2 separate regions of the Homo sapiens genome follow, and region 2 is linked to region 1. A link means that fine-mapping ties the variant in region 1 to the expression of a gene that starts in the linked region. Tissue or cell type: transverse colon. Region 1 holds a variant in brackets; the other region holds the start of a gene. All regions are shown on one strand. Distances are between the middles of the regions. Region 1 overlaps IYD (iodotyrosine deiodinase). Region 2 holds the start of IYD (iodotyrosine deiodinase).

The links. PIP is the estimated chance that this variant, and not a neighbour inherited with it, causes the effect.
Region 2: IYD starts here. The variant in region 1 is fine-mapped to the expression of IYD in transverse colon (CEDAR, PIP 0.95). The same link has a PIP of 0.9 or more in ileum and rectum.

What each region holds. Positions count from the first base shown.
Region 1 is chr6:150,401,789-150,407,171 of GRCh38, reverse strand. It overlaps IYD (iodotyrosine deiodinase), which reads right to left. Exons shown (of 5, transcript NM_203395.3): 5 at 1,203-5,383. Among named protein-coding and RNA genes, the nearest start is that of IYD, 35 kb to the right of the region's middle. RefSeq lists a silencer at 3,265-3,559. The variant G/A (reference allele first, on the strand shown) is at 2,994.
Region 2 is chr6:150,366,179-150,371,561 of GRCh38, reverse strand. It overlaps IYD (iodotyrosine deiodinase), which reads right to left and starts at 2,550. Exons shown (of 5, transcript NM_203395.3): 1 at 2,353-2,550. The coding sequence starts at 2,530.

The DNA.
Region 1 (5,383 bases):
AAGACTTTCTCCTGGAGACAGGACCTTTGCAATCACAGCTTGGGGAATTGTCTTTACAATAACCACTTCCTCTTAGGGAGTCAGCAGCCTGGGCTCAAATCCTGCTTGGTCACTAAGATAGTTTTGTGACTCTAGACAAGTCACAGCACCCCTCTTAGCCTACATTTCTTCATCCATTCAACAAATATTCACATAGCAGCTACCGGCACCAGGAATAGAGAGGGGAGCATGATTGATAAATCATCTTAGAATTTATGATTGCATTATGGGAGTTACTCAGTAAATGAGTTTTTAAAAATCAGGGGGAGGGGGAAAACCTTTGAAGAACAATTTGGCAAGATCTAGAAAAGCTGAAATTTGACTTCTCTTTGACCCAGTAAGTCTACTCTTAGGTATATACCCTAGAGAAATTCTTAAACATTCCCACAGGACAAAGAATGAATGTAAAAGAATTTAAATGACAACTCATAAGAAAATGAAAAATGTGCGATATGTTCGTACAATGGTATAGAGCAGTAAAAATGAATGACCTAGAGCTGCACATTTCAACATGGACTATCTCATAAGCATAACTGAAGAATGTTGCAGAAAAATATGTAAAGTTTAATGCCATCTGTGTAGAGTTAAAATGGACAAATATTAGATACTATTTAGTGGCAAGAGTATTTTTTACATGCATGGGCATTAATAAGACCAAATTAGATTAGTGCTTTCTTCTGTGGAGGGAGGAAAGAGGATGGAACTGGGGAGTAATACATAGGCGGTATTAACTGTATTGATAATGTTTTGTATCTTAACCTACATTGTGGTTACATAGTTTTCATTATAATATTCTTAGGATTTTGTGTCTATATTTTAAATGTTGCCCTATAAAAATTTTAAAATTTATTAAATAATGATAAGTGCTCTGAAGAAAATAAACATCTGAAGTGATTGAGAGTGACTGGGGTTTGGTTGGGGGTACTGGAGATTGGGTGGTCAAGGAAAGTTTCTCAGCAGAGGTACTGGGTTGAGCTGAATCATGACTGACATGAAGGGAGCAGCCATAACAGTATCTAGGGGAGGAGCATTGCAGGTGGAGAGAACATCTAATGCCAAGGGTCGTGAATTGTAAAGGACCTAAGATTTTACCCTCCTCGCAAGATAGCAAGGTAGCCTGACTTAGTAGTGTGGATGCTGACAGAAGACACAAGACTACTGGGTCAGAGCAAGATATGTTATTATTCACAGCAGCAGGCAGCATGCTTTTCCTGTTCACACTGCTTCTCCTTGTTCCCCTCCCATGGTCAATATTCAGAGATAAAGTCAGTATAACTTGCTCATGGATTTGGATGTGCAGAATAAAAGAATCACAGAAATTTAAGATGATGATATGGTTTGGCTATGTCTTCACCCAAATCTCATCTTGCATTGTAGTTCCCATAATCCCCACATGTCATGGGAGAGAACTGATGGGGGATAATTGAATAATGGGGGCAGTTTCCCCCATGTTATTCTCATGAGAATGAGTGAGTTCTCATGAGATCTGATGGCTTTATAAGGGGTTTCCCCATTCACTCAGTTGTCATTCTTCTGCTTCCTGTCACCATGTGAAGAAGGGCATGTTTGCTTTTCTTTCTGCCATGATTGTAAGTTTCCTGAGGCCTCCCCAGCCATGCTGAACTGTGAATCAATTAAACCTCCTTCCTTTATAAATTACTCAGTCTCAGGTATTCTTTATTAGCAGTGTGAGAATGGACTAATACAGAAGATTTCTGGATTTGAGGCTCCATCCCAAAAAGTATGAATTGAGGGGCCAAGTAAGGGGTGGAAAGGACTCAAAAGTAGTATTTTGAGCATTAAAAGGTTGTGGTGCCTACTAACATCTAAGTGGAGGGACAGAGAAAGCAGCTGGGAGTAAGAGTTTGGCGTTTCAGGGCAAGGTCAAGGCTGAAGGTCTAGACCAGGGAGGGCCTGGCAGATGGAAGGTGCTAACAGCCCTGGGACTGATGAGCTCACTTGAGAATACTTGCCACATTTACCATACTCACCTGGTCAGCAGAATCACCTGGAACACGTTAAAAACACAGATTCCCATGTCCCTTTCAGATCTTGCATTCTAAAATTTTATGACTAGATTGAGATATATTTCTGCACACATTCAATATGTACTGAATATTTATTGAGCACCTATTATGTTCCAAGCACTGTGCTTGTTGTGATTGGTGAAGCTATAACAGCATCCGGTGGTTATGAAGAAAGACCAAGAGAACCACTGAGACTTTGGCACTAACTTCATTGAAGCAATAGACCAGCATCTAATATCTACCTCCAGACTTCTCACTAGGAGGGAAAAATAATCCCTTATTTGTTTGGGTTATAGTGAGGTTTTTTTGTTTGTATTACTTCTGTCAAAAGCATTCTGACCTCATACACACATTTTATTATCCTATTTATAAAACTAGTAAACAAATAAATAAAACAAATCTCTTTGGGGAAGGGGGGCTTTAATTAATGTTTGATTAACTCAAGTTGAATAAGCCAAACTCCCTTAAAGCATCAGTCTTAGTTATAGGCTTTGTTTATTAAAATCTTTTAAACATTCTAAACTTCTTGTGTAATTTATCATATTTAATTTTCTATTTTAGCACTTCAAATCATTGATATGACAAGATTATAACCAATTAAGACAAAACATTCTCATATATTTAAGCATCTCTTGTAAATCTAATACATTAAACTTATAGTAAATCTAGTCTAATACTTTTCATGAGCTAAGTTAAATATTCTTATACCTTTCAACTTCAAATCACAAACGTAAAATCAATTTCACATTTCAAATTGGAATCATAAGCTTTTTAAAGATTCAAATCACTTAAGGAGCATACACAAGATTAGTCCTAAACTTAACATGAAAGTATCAATATTATGGATTTGAATTATTGCATTATTTCCATAATGAATTCTACACATTCCCAGAGTTGGAAAATCATTTACCCAATAAGGGAACAGAG[G/A]TGCTATTTACTATTGTCAAGGACTCATGCCCACAATATGGTGGACAACTCAGATGAGCAGAGGTTGCTTAGGATCTCTGGTCATAAGACAGTACTCCAGCGCTGGGAGACAGTGCCCTGAGTGCTGTGGTTACTATGGGAACAGGAGGCTCCCAGTTTTCACCCTTCAGAGGGTTTTGATTTTAGAACCTTTATTCCAGTTACCTCCCAAGTATTATTTTTATTTTTAATTATTAGAGTAGAAGGAAGTTGGCGACTCCACCTAGGTTAGCTAACAACTTCCTTTATGATCTCATTGGCTTTTGCGTTTACTTGGCACTCTGCAGGCATTGCTAACATATTTCCATCCTGCTCTAAAGACATTTAAATGCTGTTGAATTCAATCCTGAACATTTGGCTCTGAGCCATGACTCTCAGGTCATGATAATAACATAAACCAATCCCCTGCCTCATGACTTTTTAGGAATTTCCCAAATGGGATTATAGCCTCTCACATTTCATTAGAACTACTGTATTTAGCTTGGCAGGATCTTAGCTTTGGGGGCTGTTCTCCCTTGAGCCTGCCCCTGGATGTGCTGGACGTCATTTGCTGAGGCCACCCAGATAGGGAGCAGACCTGGCATCAGCCTTAGATGCGTCAGCCCATTCCCTCCACTACCCTGCTGGGAGTTCCTTACCATTCCCACCTCCAGTTCTCTGCTATTCACCCTCTCTAAAAGGTAGATAAACGCAACGTTTTTTGAGTGTCCAGCCTATTTTGTGGGCTGAGTGGGGCAGGAGAAGGGAGGCACAGTAGCAGCAGAGCTGAAGCCACATTTCTTCTGGACCTCTCATTACTTGTATATATGTGTGAATTGAAAACACGATGTTACCTTTGTTTCCATTTCACACAAATTATAAGAGGGCACTCTGCTGATACCTAGCAAAATAAAATTATATTTCTCATGCCTCTCTGGCATAATATCCACTGATAACTATGTGTTTTTCTTCCACTTACTGATATTCCTAAAAGATGCTTACAAAATGTCTTTTAAAATATCACATCAGTTTGAATACTCTTTGGGAACTCCAATATTTAGAAAAACTAGCCTGGGTGTGGTGGCGTGCACCTGTATCCCAGCTACCTGGGAAGCTAAGGTGGGAGGATCACTTGAGTCCAGAAGTTGGAGGCTGCAGTGAGCTATAATCACACCACTGCATTCTAGCCTGGGTGACAGAGCAAGAATAAAGTAAATAGAGAAAACTATTGGTGGATCATCTTTGTAAGTTTGTAAATTTGGCTTAAAATGGGGTGCACTTTGCTGGGGTTTGAGCAAATGTGCAATAACTATTTACCCCCAATATCATGCAGCAGAGAAGTCACTCTTCCTTTCATAGGGAGGAGCAAATAAGAAGAAATACTGAACTGTCCTCCAGTACTCCTTGATGGAAGTTTCCATTTTGTGGACAGAGGCAGAGATGTCTAGGAAGAAGTCAATCTTAGTTCCACTTTATGTATGTTTATATCAATTTTCTTTGGCCCAAAGTGATACTCTATTTAAAGCTGTATTAGACAAATATCAACCGATCTTAGCGTTTCAGAAGAAAATCTTTATGCCTTTCACTGTCCTATTCTGATTTCACCAATTTCTTCAACTTTCCTTCTCCCCTCCTTTTCTTTTCTGTTATATCCAGTTTTGTTTTCCAAATCCAGAGTTATATGTTTTGGGGAAGAGACATCCAGCACCTACACACATCTGGGCCTCCTTCCTTGCAGGTGCAGGGGGATGATAACATTGACGACACTGCTCCACCTCCTGTGAGGTCACATGACTAGTTCTAGCCAAAGGGTTGTGAGACTGAGGAGGTCACTCCTAGGCCAAGGTACGATGGAATTGTTGGGGTGACCTCTTCCAGTGTTTTCTCCCCCTGCTGCCTCTAGGAAGGAGGCAGCCATGCCCTAGAAGTTGCATCCCACAGTATTACTGGGTTACCCCATGCAAGTAATTGTCTCGGAGGGTTTCCAGGCCTGCAGAGGACTTTGCCTGCCCAATAAATGAACTTTTATCACGTCAAGTCACAAGCATTGCATTTGTTGATTGCCAATGCCCCATGGTTCTCAAAATGTGGTACCCAATCACCAGCATCAGCAACACCTGGGAATACATTAGAACTGGAGCATTTGGGCACCACCCAGCAATACTGAATCACACAATCACACACCCTGAGGGTGCGGCCCAGCAATCTGTGCTTTAACAGACCACCAGATGAGGGATGCCAGCAAGTATGAGGACCATGGCTCTACCCCGTGCTGGCTGACACAACTTTGAGTTAAAAATTCCCTCTTGGCAAAGTAGAGTCTTCAGGTGAGTCCTATTAGTAAGACACAAACCATTTTCAACTTTCTTAAT
Region 2 (5,383 bases), 36 kb after region 1:
TCCAGGCCCAGCCCCAGGACCTGACCCTCAACAGCCTGCCCGAGCTCTCCTGTGTCCTCAAACCTCTTGGGTCTTCAAATCCAGTGGCCTTTCCTTGATGCACACTCTTTCTGGTCTCTCAGAGAATGTTGGTCCCTGCTGGCTATCTCCTGCCTCCTCCATTCTAGGTCATTCTCCCAGGGGAGAGGCAGCCCAGCAAACAGCTGGCTTGGGTCCTATCTCTGCAATCACCTTCCTGAGCTTACCCTATTGGGGCCTCAATTTCCTTATCTGTAATATGGGGATTCTAATAGTGCCTACCTCATTGTACTGTCATGAAGATGAAATGATTTACTACACATAATATGTGGCTGTGATTGCATACATTAAGAGCTATTAATATATAAGGGCTTGTTACTGTTATGATCCCAGAGCCCCCTTTCCCACAGCTCCTCCCTTTCTCTAGTACATTTTTCTTCCACAGTTCCTCTTAACCGCATGTGTCCCTCAAGTTCTATCCTCAGCCTTCTCTCTAGCAATGCCCACTTTGTGGATTCATTATTTCTCCAGGTTCCAAGTATCTTCCCCATACTGGTGACTCTCCAGTCAGTATCTGTGGCCTGGGCCCCTAACATAGACTGCTGTCTCCCTTTTCTGCTCAGGTGTGTCACTGTCGTCTGAAATCAAACATGTCCTCGATGGAACTCAACATCTTCCCCTTTAAGCTGGATCCTCATTCCCTCACCCACTTATGATAGCTTCCAGTCTCCAACTCTCCCTCTCTCCTCCTTTTCCCAATATCCAATTTACTAGCAAACCCTGTTGCTCTTCCATTAACTTTACTCTGATCCACGCCTTCCACTGCATTCCCACCTGCCCCCACCATCCAGGCCATCCTTACCAGCACAAACCATTACCCAGCTTCACAGCAGATGTTCCCTGGATTAAGGGAAGTGCTTCTCCGCTGGGTAGAATTGACGTTCTGAGTGGAAGAGGTTTCAATGTAGGAGAGCAAGAGGCAGCCCTGCTGAGAGGCTAGACTCCTGTACGGTGCAGTCAGCACTACAGGCTGTTAGCACTGAGAGCCAGCTGGACACCCTGCGCCCCGGTCCTGAGATTAGGACACACACTCATGCACACACTCTCTCACAAACACACTCATGCGCACGCACACACACATTCATGCATGCACACACAAACTCATGCATGCTCACACACACTCATGCACACACGTGCACACTCACACGCACACTCACCCACTCGTGCACACACACTCATGCACACACACTCACACATGCACATTAATGAACACTCACATGCACGCGCACACACATCCACTCTCATGCACACACACACACGCACGCGCACACACACATGCACATTCATAAACACACACTCTCACACACATACACTCACACACACTCACATGTCCAGGTGGCCTCTGTTTGGGGATGGGGGCATCATTAGCCCAGCTGAAGATCACAGAGCCTCTTCCAAATCGAACCCATCCCAGACAAAGCTTCTCAAACACAGATGGCTCAAGCTTCCTCCACGCTCTCTCCCTTCCTACCTGCCTCCTTCATCACCTCTTCTTCTCAAGGTGGCCATAACCTTCCCGCCCTCAATTCTCTACTTCCATTCTTACCCTCTCCCTCCACCCTCAATTCTCCACTTCCTCTCTTACCCCTGCCCCAGGCCTCCAGGTGCTTCTGCTCCTTTGGCTCCTTGTTGCCTGACAGGCCTCCCAGCACTTGCTATTTGTACCCTATTCATCCTCCCAGCCTGGTTTGTCCTTTCCCTGACTGCACCGTCAAACTCCCAGGCCTACTCTAAACACCTTAGAATCAGTTCCACCGGGTCTGTCTCTTTGTTACTCTCTCTGATTCTAGTGTATCATCTTGGCAGCTGAACTGGACATTCAGTTTGTTGAGGACAGAGGCCATCCCAGGCTTTCACTTCCAGGGCCTGGCACAGGGAAAGGTAGCAGCCTCCTAGGTGATGCCACTTGGTAGATTTCAAAGTTCCTGATCAAAACCTGGCCTCTTAGTCCCTGCCCACTGCCAGCCTGGGATGAATTCCTGCAGAAAGATTTTAACAACCAGAACAGAATTGTAGCCAGGGAAAACTTCAGCCTCTCAACAGCTTTTTCACTGGGCATCAAAAATAAAAAAGGGTTGGTCCCAGCAGGTGACAAGCTCATCACTGGAGAGAGATGACCTGTCTGTGCCAAGCACTGATTCATTAGCACAATAGAGGTTGATGTTGAAGCTGGCCTGTGTGTGTTTCTTCCTCTCCATAAGCCCTGCCATTGACTCACACTCATCATCAACACAACACGACAGCGAAGCTAAGCAGCATAGCTGGTGTCTTTACCTTCTTCTGCTTGGTGCAGGTCACTGCTGTCTTTTAAGTCTTCATCCACCCAGGGGCGAGCTTCGGCCCTGGTTCTAGGCTCCCCCTTCTTTTTCTCCATGCTTCTGTCGGCATTTTTAAAGATCCACACAACCAAAATGCAGAGAATGGCTACCAAGATGGGAGTCAGGAAATACATGGTCTGGAGTCTGACGTCACAGGCGTGCACACTTCCCACACCGGTTTTTAAACACACAGAGACAGGAGTGGAGAATGCCGGGAGATAGAAGGAATGCAGACACAGGTGTGCCAGGGAAGGAACAAAGTGCAGAACTCTTCAACTCTGTGAGGACTTTGCAAAGGAGCAAAGATCACAGTCACATGTGTGGGGTGTTGTGGCTTTGGTTATACACCAGTCCATTAACTTTTTAAAAGTATGTACTCTGTCGATATATTCTTAGACAACAATTGCCAGAATCTGAGTAAGAACTTGCATGTGCTAGATCTAGCTAGATCACCTGAAGAACTTGTTTTTGTTTTTGTTTTTTTTAAATAGATTTCCACACACCAACTCAGATCTGCTGGAAGAAAATGTTCAGGAAAGAGGTTTGGCACCATGCATTTTAAATGGCATATTTGTGAAAACAGCCCTAGGGTTTTGATTTTTTTTTTATGATACCTGAGCCAATATATGGAGTAAAGAGAATATCATGTTTTGCATCAGAGAAAAACTTTGATCCAGGAAAAGTGACACAAAAAATTAAAGTGACAACTTGATTATGTAATTACTTCAGTAGGGCTTTTTATGTGTTAGTTTGTCTGTCTGTTTTAGAAAGTGCCTTAGTCAGTTATGGCTGAAATAACAAAAATACTATGGACCGGGTGGCTTAAACAATATAAATTTATTTCTCAGCCAGGTATGGTGGCTCATGCCTATAATCCCGGCACTTTGGGAGGCTGAGAGGGGCAGATCACTTGAGGTCAGGAGTTCGAGACCAGCCTGGCCAACATGATGAAACCCCATCTCTACTAAAAATACAAAAATTAGTTGGGCCTGGTGGTACATGCCTGCAAACACAGCTACTCAGGAGGCTGAGGCAGGAAAATAGCTCCACCCAGGAGGTGGAGGTTGCAGTGAGCCGAAATTGTGCCATTGCACTCCAGCCTGGGCGACAAGAGTGAAAGTTCCTCTAAAAAAAAAAAAAGAAAGAAAGAAGAAGAAGAAGAAAAAGAAAAGAAAAGAAAGAAAGAAAGAAAGAAAGAAAGAAAGAAAGAAAGAAAGAAAGAAAGAAATTTATTTATCATTTATTTATCATAGTTCTGGAGGTTGAGAAGTCCATAATTAAGGTGCTGGCAAATCAGCTCCTGGTGAGGGCTCCCCTCCTGGTTTGCCAACAGGTGCCTTCTTGCTGTAACCTCACACAGTGGATGGTGGAAACAGATCATCTCTATCATCTTTTTTCTTATAAGGCCACTAATCTCATTAATGAGGGCTCCACTCTCATCACCTGTTCACCTCCCAAAGGCCCAACCTCCAAATACCATTGTACTGGGGCTTAGGGCTCCAACACATGAATTTTGCCAAGACATATTCAGTCTTTAGCATCAAGGTGCAAACGTATGTATAACATGATGCCATTTGAATAAAACAGAGTGGAAAATATGATACATTTATACAAACTTATATATGTATTTCCTGGAAAAGCATACTCTAAGGAGCGGTTATATCAGGAATTCTCTTTATTAATTTTGCAATTTCTTGTGAGTCTATATTATTTCAAAATAAACAGTGAAAAAAACAGTGGTTACTTGTTTTGGAGGGAGTGTGGAAACTGGATAGATGGGGGACAAGGGTGAGAGAATTTCTACTGAATACTATTCCATAATTTAAGTATTTTGAGCTGTTGTAAATATATTATCTATTTAAAAAATTGAATATGTGTTATTTATTTCAATACTCATTTTGATGGTTTTATTGTATCATATATTGTAATACTCCTTTTTGTGATAGACAGTTGTTTTTTAAGATGTATATCATATTGGTTCTCTAACTCCAGAGAACTCTGTAGAAGATAATAAACAAAGTTTATTATGGAAGCACTGGCCTCCACAGACCATTGAATTTGGTGGTGCTGCCTGCCATGCCGACAGCTTTTGTACAGGAAAGTGCCCTCCCTGTGCCTGCTGAAAGGGTGTCAGAGGGGACATGTCCAGTCCATGTGATCCAACCCCACGCAGGCAGCTGAAAATGGCAGAGCCTGTGTTGGGGCCCAGCTTCTCTTTACATCCCACTAAAAACACAGAATAAAGAAACCACTCCATAGCAAGAGAAGAGCAAGACAAATGTGCAGAGAGAAGCAAGGCCTGCAAGGCAGCAATGCCTCACAGCTCAGGGGAAGGACAAGGTGAGGGCCATGGGTGGCAACTGCCTCTGCTCCTAGGAGGTCCCAGGCCTGCCTCGGTTTCAGCCCATGTGTCTCCTTACCTTCGAAGAATCAGAAAGATCCTCGGTGCCTGTAACTACAAAAGCACAATTCATATCAGTGTCAGGAACAGGATTAAGCCCAGGAAAAATGGGGTGGTGGGAATTGGTTTTAGTGCACTAGTGGGTGAAGTCTGGGAGGCACCCCCATCTCAGAAGGGAATGCTAACAGCTGTGGCATGCAGCAGCTGGCTGGCTAATTGAGTATTGCCTGAGTCTCTTGGGTTTCAGACCATGTGCCCAGCAGAATGAGTCTGTAGGGGATTCTGAAGCCACTGAGAGCCCCGGAGGAGCTGAAACATAAGGACAACCATGCCAGAAGGCAGCTTTCCATCATGTTTGGTGACTTGCAATGGGAAAGAAAAGATTCTTGCTCTGAATTGCTTGGTTCAAGATAGAGAAGAAAAGCAAAATGACCATGCATTCCTTCATTCATTCATTCACTCATTCATTCAAAATATATTTTTTGGGATCCATGCAAAAGGCATTGCATTTGGGGCCAGAAATAGAACGGAGGGCAGTAGGGGCTGCACATGCTCATGGAGGCAGGAGCCACAGAGAGACAAGCGG